Homo sapiens: one gene and its partners. The protein of the gene in region 3 purifies or fractionates together with the protein of the main gene of each other region. This does not show direct contact. Each region holds a gene or a part of one and is shown on either strand. Other genes may lie near its edges. The genes, in order: SEMA4D, CHST10 and DNAJC25-GNG10.

What was found.
Region 1: the proteins of DNAJC25-GNG10 (region 3) and SEMA4D purify together in Homo sapiens (affinity purification with mass spectrometry, with the first as the bait; one large-scale study listed by BioGRID). This does not show direct contact.
Region 2: the proteins of DNAJC25-GNG10 (region 3) and CHST10 purify together in Homo sapiens (affinity purification with mass spectrometry, with the first as the bait; one large-scale study listed by BioGRID). This does not show direct contact.

The regions. Positions count from the first base shown.
Region 1 is NC_000009.12:89,383,039-89,386,687, forward strand, and holds part of SEMA4D (semaphorin-4D isoform 1 precursor), read right to left. Parts: intron 3,445-3,649; coding exon 3,329-3,444; intron 3,068-3,328; coding exon of another isoform or gene 2,909-3,067; exon of another isoform or gene 1-2,908. UniProt on the Homo sapiens protein: Cell surface receptor for PLXNB1 and PLXNB2 that plays an important role in cell-cell signaling. Regulates GABAergic synapse development. Promotes the development of inhibitory synapses in a PLXNB1-dependent manner.
Region 2 is NC_000002.12:100,397,152-100,400,800, reverse strand, and holds part of CHST10 (carbohydrate sulfotransferase 10), read left to right. Parts: intron 1-2,658; coding exon 2,659-2,893; intron 2,894-3,649. UniProt on the Homo sapiens protein: Catalyzes the transfer of sulfate from 3'-phosphoadenylyl sulfate (PAPS) to position 3 of terminal glucuronic acid of both protein- and lipid-linked oligosaccharides.
Region 3 is NC_000009.12:111,629,748-111,633,496, reverse strand, and holds the start of DNAJC25-GNG10 (DNAJC25-GNG10 protein precursor), read right to left. Parts: upstream 2,164-3,749; 5' UTR 2,090-2,163; coding exon 1,754-2,089; intron 1-1,753. Other genes in the region: DNAJC25 (dnaJ homolog subfamily C member 25 precursor), read right to left, coding at 1,754-2,089.

The DNA of each region.
Region 1 (3,649 bases), about 22 Mb from region 3:
GCCACACAGAGACCAAGGGATGACTGTGGAAGGGAAGAGGGGACAGGGAAGGAGGAACTGGTCGTCAGGACAGCCAGCTGTAACTGCTGCAGGCAGGACCCACTGGTCGATGTGGATGTCAGTGGGTGGGAGAACAGGGCATTTCTGTAGCCTCCAAGTCTGTCCCTGCAAATAAGCATGAATGACTGTGGGGGTTTCCCACATGACTCCCCTGGGAGGTGGGGCTCACTCTCCCCCACCCCCAGTGTGGACTACATGCCCCGACACACTCGACATGGAAAAAGACGGTGGTGACTTGGACAGAATGACCAAGGTCATCACGCTGGTGCGAGTCATACAGATGCCCCATCCCCAGAAAGCGCCCTCTTTGGTGCTCCCCCTAAAACCACGACCCCAAGATAATCACAAGAATACACCAGACACACCACAAAACACCAGACTACTCCTCTCCAGGAGTGCTGAGGTCAGGGAGGCAGGAACAGAGCAGAAGCCGAGGAGATGCAGTGTCCAGTGCAACCTGAGGTGCTGAGCCAGGAATGTGGTGGGCGGGAGGTAGGAGGGTCCAGGGTCTGGGGTTCAGGTAACGCACTGCACCATGACAGCACCTTGGCTCAGATAAATGCACACTGGCTATGTGAGACATCGGACATGTGGAGCTAGGTGGGGGCGCTCAAGATCCTTCTGTGCAATCATCAAAACTCTTCTGTAAATTTAAAATTATTTCAAGACAAAATTTTTAAAGGCAAAGAAAAAAAGCCTGACCAGGCACCTGGCAGCATGAGTGAGGCCCGCTGAGAGCAAGCCTGTCCTGTGCACTCCTGCCCCTCGACGCCCCCTGTCTCCGCCTTCCCTGGGCCTGAGGATTGTCCCCTTGCAGGCAGCTCTCATGCTCCCATCTCTGTCTCTGCTGCTGTGTGTGCGCGTCAGACCCCGAGGGCAGGTTGGAGTGACGGTGGACGTGATCAGAGGCAACTGAGCTGTCTAAGTGCCTTCCTTGCCCTCTGCCACGCTAGCTGTAGCTCAGCATCCCAAGGAGTCCTGGTGAAAATACAGACACAGCCTACTCGGTGGGCTCAGAGAGGGCCGAGCAAACCGCATCTGCTGTGTGCGCCCAAGGAATGGAAAGCAAGGACTTGAGGTATCTGCACACCCACGTTCACAGCAGCACTGTTCACAGAAGCCAGAAGGTGGGAGCAACCGTGTCCATCAAGGGATGAACGCACACACAAAATGCGGGACTCACAAAATGCGGTATTCACATACGACAGAGGAGTATGTAGCCTTGGAAAACCCTGACCCCTGCTACAGCAGGGAGGAACCTTGAGGACTTTATGTTAAGTGAAATAAGCCAGTTACAAATGGATAAATACTGTGTGATTCCACTCATATGAGGTACCCAGACAGAAACAGAAAGCAGAATGGCGGCTGCCCAGGGCTGGAGGAGGGGAAAATGAAGAGTTTGTATTTCACAGGTAAAAAGCTTCTGTTTGGGAAGATGAAAAGCACCCTGCAGACAGACAGTGGTAATGGCTGCAAAACAACGTGAATGTTCTTAATGCCACTGACGTGCACAATGAAAAATGGTTAAGACGGCAAATTTCATCTGATGTGTATTTACCAAAATAAAAAGCAAAACCCCATGCTTGTCATCAGGGGAGAGGAGGTGAGGGTGGAGGCACAGCGCACCTCCCCAGCTGTAGGACAGGGGGAGGGCGTGGTACTGGCCGTTTCTCCATTTGCTGATCACCGTGAGAGAGCCTGATGGGGTCAGGCGGCACAGTCTTTTTACCACTGAACAGCCACTTCCTGCTGCCATGGCCATGGAGCTGGGCCTTCCACCCCCACCTGGAGCCTACTGAGGCCCAAGGAGAAGGCACAGGACCCCACGGCAGGCAGGATGTATTTCCGCTTGTCCAGGCAACTAAGCCACGTCCCCACGAATGGAGGCTCCTACAGAGACAGGCGGGTCGGGTGGTCCAGTAGGACCAGCAAGCGCTTCCCCAAACCCACTGGCTCCTCCTCCTGGGCGCGAGGCTCCCTGTGTGGCCAGCTGCCCTGGTGTGGCCATGTGACCGAGTTCTGGGAGATGGCGGGTGGGCACTGACCCGTAACCCCCTCTGTGCGGCCCTCCTCTTCCTACCCCCTTCTGCCTTTGAGGATCAGTGCCCATGTGCCCTGGAAGCCTCCACCAGCCTGGGTCCCTAAGTGACCCTTGGAACAGAGTGTCATTCTCACGAATGTCCACACCAGGGGCCCAATCTTCATTCTAATGAGAAGTCCACATTTTAGAGATGTTGTAGGTGCCTGCCCAGTCTGGCTGAGGCCACTGAACAGCACGATGGCCCCAGAAGAGCTTCTGGGTCCCCTTCTTTCAACAACGAGGCTGGGGTGAGGCCCCACAGTGGCTAAAGCGTCGACCCTTCAAATCTCCAGGGCTCCCTTTGTGTCCTGGAGACCGAGAGGCTGGTGAACAGATGCCAGTACCCAGTGGCTTATAACTTGCTCAGGCTATTTCATTCTCTTTTCCTTTCAGATCTGAGGGAGAACTCTCCATTAGCAGAGGGGAGGTGACCACGTAAAAGGACCCAGGCTCCCAAGCTTTGTGGATACAGGGGAGGGAAGAGGACAGAAGACCTGGAGGGGTGTTTGCAAATACGCACCTGCCAAGGGTAGGTATCTTACCCGGCCAGACAGGGGCCCTCTTCCTCTGCCTGTTGCTCCCAGCTGAGGGAGGAGAGGACTGACTGGGCCTGGATCCCACAAGGTGGTTGGAGGTCCCGTTAGGAGCCAGGGCCAGGGAGGCAGCCCCCTAAAGGCCAGCGTGGATGCCCGCCCACCCACCCCTGCCAAGGGCTGCTTGGGAGTATTGCAGGCCAGACCAGAGTCTCAGCCACAGGTGGAGACAGCTTTACAGATGAGACGAACCACTTCTCTTGTGGATTTTCCACGGTGACGAGTCAGCTGTATCACTATCATATCCCACAGATGCAGTCTGCACACCCCCCAAGCTCAGGGCATAAAAAGGTGTCTTCATGGAGCAGTGCCCACCTCTCCACAGCCTGTAAAGCTGCACCAACAACTCAATGACATTCCAGCAACTTCGAAGAGAAAGTCCCGTCTCCCCAGGTCTGCCTTCCTGCCTTCCCCAATTCAGATCCCACAGCTCACGGAATGGCTCTGTGTCAAACTCTGAAGGTTGGCTCACCCAGGGCAGACAGACAGAGGGGCCTGCCCAGGAGCCCGACTCCAGCTTGCCAACTCTCCTGTCACCTAGAATCAAAGCCACCGAGCGGAGAAGCCCCCGGTCCAGCTGCCTGCGTCACTTTACCTTCTTTGAAGACAGCAGCAGGGTCTGGACTGGCTCAAAGTCCTGGAAGAGCTGGGTCTCCTCGATGATGTGAACAGCGTGCTCGAGGCTGATGGCTTTGTGCAGAGCTCCCCGGTCTGCAGGGCCAAAGCTACAGGTCAGTGACACTAACCCAGACACAGAAACCAAGGACAGTGACCACAGCGGCAAACTTCACACTCTTCACTCTCAAGTCATTCCCTCCACAGATACTTAGAAAACAATGATGATTTCGCATTAGAAACAAAAAAAGGAAAAGGCTTTGGCAAAACAGACAACTGGAAACCCAAGTGTTATGGGTTA
Region 2 (3,649 bases), on a different chromosome or scaffold from region 3:
AGGCTGAGGCAGGAGAATCTCTTGAACCCAGGAAGCGGAGGTTGCAGTGAGCTGAGATCGTGCCATTGCACTCCAGCTTGGGCAACAAGAGCGAAACTCGGTCTCAGAAAAAAAGTTTACTTTGTGCATGGTGTAGCCGAATGTTTGAATGGAAAATAGAAAATAATATTTGTCTTTAAGTTGGCTTTGTATATTTCCAAAGGGAAAAAAGAAAACAATGCTCATTCTTACACACAATTGAACAAGAAATCTTTTTTCTTTAGCTGGGCATGGTGGCTTACGCCTATAATCCCAGCACTTTGGGAGGCTAAGGCAGGAGAATCGATTGCGCCTAGGAGTTTGAGACCAGCCTGGGCAATATACTGAGACCTCATCTCTACACAAAATACAAAAATCAGGTGGTTATGGTGGTGTGTGTTTATAACCCCAGCTACTTGGGAGGCTGAGGTGGGAGAATCACTTGAGCCCAGGAGTTGGAGGCTATAGTGAGTCATGATTGTGCCACTGCACTCCAGCCTGGGTGACAGAACAAGACCTCGTCTCTTAGAAGAAGAATTTTTGTCTCTAATGCTTTGCTAAAAGAAAAGCAATATCTAATATCTTTTCTTTGTTCAAAGAAAAGCAGTATCTAAAAGTGCAGAGTTTTCTGCATTTTCTAAAGGGAACTTGTTGGGAGGTGCTCTCTCCTGATGCGCTGTTCTTGAGTGCCATCCATGATCAGGGTTAGGTTTGGAACAGAGAGGGAGGAGAAGACAGAGAGGCTCTTTTGGGATAAGTGAGCAAGAGGTGGGATGGATGAGGAAATGAGGTTAAACGAGACCCGTTCTTGTAAGAGCAAGGAGAGTGCCTGGCGTGGCTCCTGGTTTTCCATGGTGGGTGGAGGGCCCGGGCAGCCGCTGATGCCCTGTGGGGAGGAACGGAGGCCACTCTGCAAAGGGGCCTCTCGCTTCCCCAGTGTCTTCATCTCGAAAAGCAGGCAGTCAGTAGCCCCCAGGATGCTCTTCCCACCACCAGGGAATCCCAGGAAATTCACTTAAACACACAAGGGAGAAAGCATCCTGGCCAGAGGTCATGAGTGTAAGAGAGTTTGGTTACAGTAGATCCATAAAGGAAGAGCTGGGTGGGGGGCCCTGAGGGGGGACCTCTGTCATCCTGATAGTTCCAGCGTCCCGGTTCTAGTGTGTTCTAGAAGTCTTATGTCCTTCCCATTTTCTAACTGACGTTGTCCCCTGGGAGGACAGGTTGTTAAAACTACCCTATAAATGGATTTCCTGGCAAGCCCAGTGCATTTTAAAAGATATAACAAGGATATTTGGGTCCATTCAATACAATTATTTGGAAGGATCATCTGCTTTGAAATTTTGGGAAGTTCTGTGTAGCTTTAAGAGATAGATATGGCCGGGCGTGGTGGCTTACGCCTGTAATCCCAGCACTTTGGGAGGCCGAGGTGGCGGATCACAAGGTCAGGAGATCAAGACCATCCTGGCTAACACAGTGAAACCCCGTCTCTACTAAAAATACAACAAAAAATTAGCCAGGCATGGTGGTGGGCACCTATAGTCCCAGCTACTCGAGAGGCTGAGGCAGGAGAATGGCGGGAACCCGGGAGGCGGAGCTTGCAGTGAGCTGAGATCGTGCCACTGCACTCCAGCCTGGGCCACAGAACGAGACTCCGTCTCATAAAAAAAAAAAAAAAAAGAGAGAGAGAGAGATGTAGCAGCTGAAGCCTTAAAAATGCTGAGAAACAGGGCCACAACTAGAGGGGGCCGATGGGGTTGGTGGAGGCTGCCCTGCTATTCAGGAATGCCCTCAGGATGCCTCCAGAGAACAAGGAGGTGTGAGCAGCAAGGGGACTTTAACTCACCGAGGACAGGGGGCCTCTGAGCAACTTCTGTGTGTACTGGCACATCTCCCTGTGCCCCCTCCAACCCATGCACACACAAGGCCTCTCACATTACAGGTATTCTCTTAGGTTCTAAAACAGCCCTGAAAAGAATGGACCAGCATGTAGAATTTGAGCTTTTTCATCTTTTTCCCCCTAGCTAGAGGATTCCAAACTTCTTACTTTGGTTTTTAATTTCTTTTTTCCCCCAAGACGGAGTCTTGCTTGCTCTGTCGCCCAGGCTGGAGTGCAGTAGTGCGATCTTAGGCTCACTGCAACCTCCACCTCCTGGGTTCAGGTGATTCTCCTGCCTGAGCCTCCTAAGTAGCTGGGATTACAGGTGTGCACCACCACACCCAGCTAATTTTTGTATTTTTAGTAGAGATGGGGTTTTACTATCTTGGCCAGGCTGATCTCGAACTCCTGACCTTGGGATCTGCCCACCTTGGCCTCCCAAAGTGCTGGGATTACAGACATGAGCCACTGTGCCCGGCCTTATTTTGTTTTTTAAAGTCAAACTTCTCTCCAAAGATCTGAGGAACCAAGCTTGCATTCATTTTCCTTGCCCAGCCTGCCGATCGGGCTGGTGGAGAGGCTCTGAAGGCCTCATGAAGGGGCTGGGGATAGTGGGTGTCACTCTGTAGACAGACAAGGAAGGGAAGAAGAGAAGGCTCCAGATGGAAAGGAGGGGATAGACCAGCAGGAGCGGCTCTGCTTGGCCCGGTCCTGCCTCCTTTAATGGTCCCTGGGCCTCTTCTGCTCTGTGTCACCTGCAGCCAACTGGGAAGGAGCTTCCAGACAGCCAGCTCGTTCAGCCCCTGGTCTACATGGAGCGCCTGGAACTCATCAGAAACGTCTGCAGGGATGATGCCCTGAAGAATCTCTCGCACACTCCTGTCTCCAAGTTTGTCCTGGACCGAATATTTGTCTGTGACAAGCACAAGATTCTTTTCTGCCAGACTCCCAAAGTGGGCAACACCCAGTGGAAGAAAGTGCTGATTGTTCTAAATGGTGTGTGTGGGTCTACTGAATGTCCACTGGGAAGGGTCTTGGTGGCCGGTGCTGAGGAGGCTGGGGAGGACAGCAAGGAGGAGTCACAAGAGGGCTGGTTTGACCTGAAGGGACTGGTGGCCGTCCAGACAGGCCTGTTTTTGTTGTTTCCTGTTAGTGTTGTGCCTTACAAGTTAGTGGGGCTCGTTTAGACACCGATTCTTTTCAAAGGGGCACAGCCACAGTCCAGCTCTCCTCACCTGTCACAGCAGATCCTCACTTTAGGTGGCTCGCCCACCCCCAGGCCCCCCTCCTTTGTCTCTTCAGGTTCCCTGTGCTGATGGTTATAGTCACCCACTCTGTCCGACATCCCCAGGGCCCCACACTCGCAGAGCCACCAGGAAGCCTCACGGTCACCCTCTCTGCAGTGAGAAGGGCTCACACTGTAGAGCCTGGGAGGGGAGCCCTGGCCCGGGGCCTGGAGCCTCTTTACCTGCAGACCAAGCGTTCTGTGCCAGCGAGCAGGAAGAAATTGTACCCCATTTCACACTAAGCATCTGTGTTCAGAGGATTGAGTCAGCTTGCTTCAGGAAACCTGATGTTTGCTAGGGAACAAATTAGATCATCACAAAGTAACCTCATACACTGCAGTTTTGATTACTCACTACTCTTTTTAGAGATGTCTATTTATTTAAATTCCAATTAGTCTGAACCGATCCTAATAATTATGGGCTCTGCTTATGAAATTTAGCTTCAGACAGGAGTTAGTTCCAGTCA
Region 3 (3,749 bases):
ACTCCCTAAATCCCCAAAAGTCAAACACACTAAATACTATTGCATGGTCTTAGTTTATAAAGCAGTGTGTGAAATCATAATGGGATAACTGATATACAATCCAAATATCACTATCTTTAACCTAATTATCTATATCATCCTAACAACTACTGCATTCCTGACACTCAACCTAAATTCAAGCACCACAACCTTATTACCATCTCGCGCCTGAAACAAATTAACATGATTAACATCCCTAATCCTATCAATTTTACTATCCCTAGTAAATCCCATTATGATTTCACACACTGGTCCAGGGCTCCCTCACGCACCAGCAGGGCTTCTGGCTGACTACAAGGAACAGAGGTTGGAGCTTCATATGCTGAAGTGCCTTGGATGGAGAGTTCTTTCCTATTTTTTCTGGAGTCTTTTTTCCATCACTTTTTACATAATCGGCAACAAAGCCCTTTGGGGCCTCAGCACTTTCCCAGTTCCCCAGCCATCCCTCAGTTAACTGCCAATAAAAATTACAATCTCACTAACGCTAGTGAGAATTTAATGAACTAGGTAAATTAAATTTTACCTAGTTCAATTCACCTAGTTTACCTAGTTCAGGGCCCGCCCCTCCACCACTCATTTTATGACTCCAAATTATCCAAACTGCTCTGGAAGGCATCAATAAAGTTGTTAGCTCCTTGACTATTTTCAGCTCTGGAAAAACAATCTGGAGGAACAATCCAAGGTAAAATTATATCCACTCAAAGTACAATCATTAAAAGCAGGCTACCTGGCAACATAGAAAATTTTGCCTCGGGAAAAAAAAAAAAAGGCTAGAAAAGAAATACTTTACAACTACAATCGCTGACGCATTAGTATGATGGGGCCCTTCAAGCAGTAATACCACCATCAAGTACGATTTATACTTCGTGATGTCCTAGATGGTTTGATTTTTTGCAGTAGTAGAAGAAAACAGCATCGGGCTAAATCTCTCATCCCCACAAGACTCAATAAAACCTGTCAAATGAAATACAAATACATATTCACAAAATATTTCCTACTAGAAATTCTCAGAGTTTTGTACCCAAGTCATTAAGCACCTATTTATGGATCCTATGGAAAGGGGGGCGGTTCGCACACTTATCATTTAATCCCCATAATAACTCTGAGAGGAGGTATCATGGCCTTAATTTTGCATATGAAGAAACAGCTATTTCAACATAATAAGTCACTATCCAAGGTCATACAGGGGTGTCACAGCAAAGACTCACATCCAGCCTTTTGACTGGTGTTCATTGTTCTTCTCAGTGTTTTCTTAGTTCCTTAAACCCAAACTAAGCGTCACCATTAACACTATTTCCAGAAACCAATTTTCTGTCATATCAAACTGATGCGATCACAGTTGTCACTTGATATTCGAGACTTTCCCTGTTGTGGGCTACCCCAGATCCTACTAATAATGATCACCCTGCTTTTCGAATGTGAAATGCACGTTATTAAAATATTTTCACGAAATCGTAAGATGGCCAAAGTTTTGCATAACAATGTCACAAAAAGGAAGAGGGCAAGGAGGCTAGCTGTGCCCCCCAAGGCCCCGTGGGGCCGACTCGGCTCTTTCACAGGGCCACGTGGGAAACGTGAGTATCTTAAAGGTCGCGGTGGTGGCTGTGCTCAGTTTCGGGGTCACAGAGGCCCACGCTCCGCGGACCGGGGTCGGAAGGCGCCGTGGGCTTCCCGCGGCCAGTCTTCGAAGCCCCTCCACGCCCGCAGGCCTCACCTTGAGTGTCTCGTAGGCGGTTGCCACCAGCAGGAAAGCCTCCTCGGCGCTCTGCGGCGTCCGCCCGGGGCCCTCGTCTCCGGGCTGGGGCCGGTAGCGGTCAGGGTGGTAGCGCCGGGCCAGCTGGCGGTAGGCCCGCGCGATCTCCGCCTTGCCCGCCGAGCGGCTCACGCCCAGCACCTCGTAGCAGTCCCGCGTGCCGCAGTAGAGCCCCTCCACCAGGGCCCCCGCGGGCCGCACCAGCAGCAGCGCCGGCAGCAGGGGCGCCAGCAGCATCCACCAGCGCCGGCCGGCAGCCCCGGCTCCCCAGCCGGGAGAGAGCAGCGGCGCCCCCATCCCCAGCCTCGCTGGCGGCTCTGCCACCCCAGCGATTCTGCAGCACTCAGCCGCGCGCCCGGCTAGTCCCGTCTGGCCCCAGCTACACGTCAGCAGCCGACGCCTCCGCGCAGGCGCACAGGGCGCGGCTACAGCAACTACTTCCTTCGCAACCCGTTGGTAGGGAGAAGGACGCCTCAGCCACTAGGCTGCTTCCGGTGTGTCACTGAACACCTTCCCCGTACCAGCAGCTGGAGGATTTGTTTGGTAGCACCTGGGGGATGGCTCTGTCCCGGGCGCACTTAGGCGGGCTGTGCGGAGCGCTTTACCTTCCACAGTGTCCGGCACACGCATCCTTTTCGACATCATCACTTGACCTGCTGCAATAGGTAACCTACCTGGCTCTCTCGCATCCCGTTATCAGCGTCAAGAAGATTTGCACGTAGGCCTTTAAAGCCAGCCACCAGCCCCGGGCGCCTTCCTCTCACTAACCCCATGCTGCCTTTCCAAACGGAAGATGAACTTAGCAATTCTAGGCGCTGCCTGTGTACTAGGTAGGGACCCTGAAAGTTCATAGCCATCTAGTTCAGTTTTTCTCAGCCTCCACGCTATTGACATTTTAGACCAGATAATTCTTTGCCTTTGAGGGGCTGCCCTTTGCATTGTAAGATGTTTAGCAGCATATCTGGCCTCTCCACACTAAATGCCAGTAGTGCCACCACCCCCAGTCATGACAATAAAAAATCTCTGTACGCGGGTCTGTGCGTCCACCTTGGGCTGCGCGTTCCCGGGACAACCTGCTGGAAGGATCAAGCGATCCTTCCAAAATGCTAGGATTACAGGCGTGAGCCACCGTGCCCGGCCTACATTTGAATTTCAGATAATAATTTTTTAGTATAAGTATGTCCAAAATATTGCATGGGACTATATGGCAACATGAAAAACTTTGCCTCAAAAAATCTGTTTCTATCATTCATCTGGTAAATGTTTATTGAGTCTCTACTCTGAGCCGGGCACTGTTACTTAGGCACTGGGGATACAGTGGTGAGCAAAGTAAACAAGAAGCTCAACTTCAGAGAGCATATATTCTGATGGAGGATGACAGTCAGTAACAAATAAATAAACGTTCAGATATAATCAACTCTTTTAATAAAGTGAAATCAAATACTGATACATAGCATTATATACTTATAATACATAATGAATATACATTATAATTTTGTATTTCTCATTGAATAAATATATATCTCTCATTACATATATCTCCCTCATTACATATATAATATATATAATCTCATTACACATATATGTCTCTGTCATTACATATATAACATATATGTGTCTATTTTTCACCTCAGCCCACTAAATATTGCATGGGACTATATAGCAACATATACAGTTATATATGTAATGAGAGAGATACATGTATATGTAATGAGATACAAAAGTTATATATATAATAACAATTTTGTGTATCATATATGCTTATTTACATTTGTATCTCATATATGTTTATATATGCTTATATATGGCTTATATATATGCTTATATATATATATAATGAGAAAGATAAAATGAATGGAAACACATGGGAGGGTCTCCTGAAATTATTAGGATCGGGATCAATTACAAGCATCAATTCCAGTAGGAGCTGACAGCTAAACTGACTTTGGAGGACGAA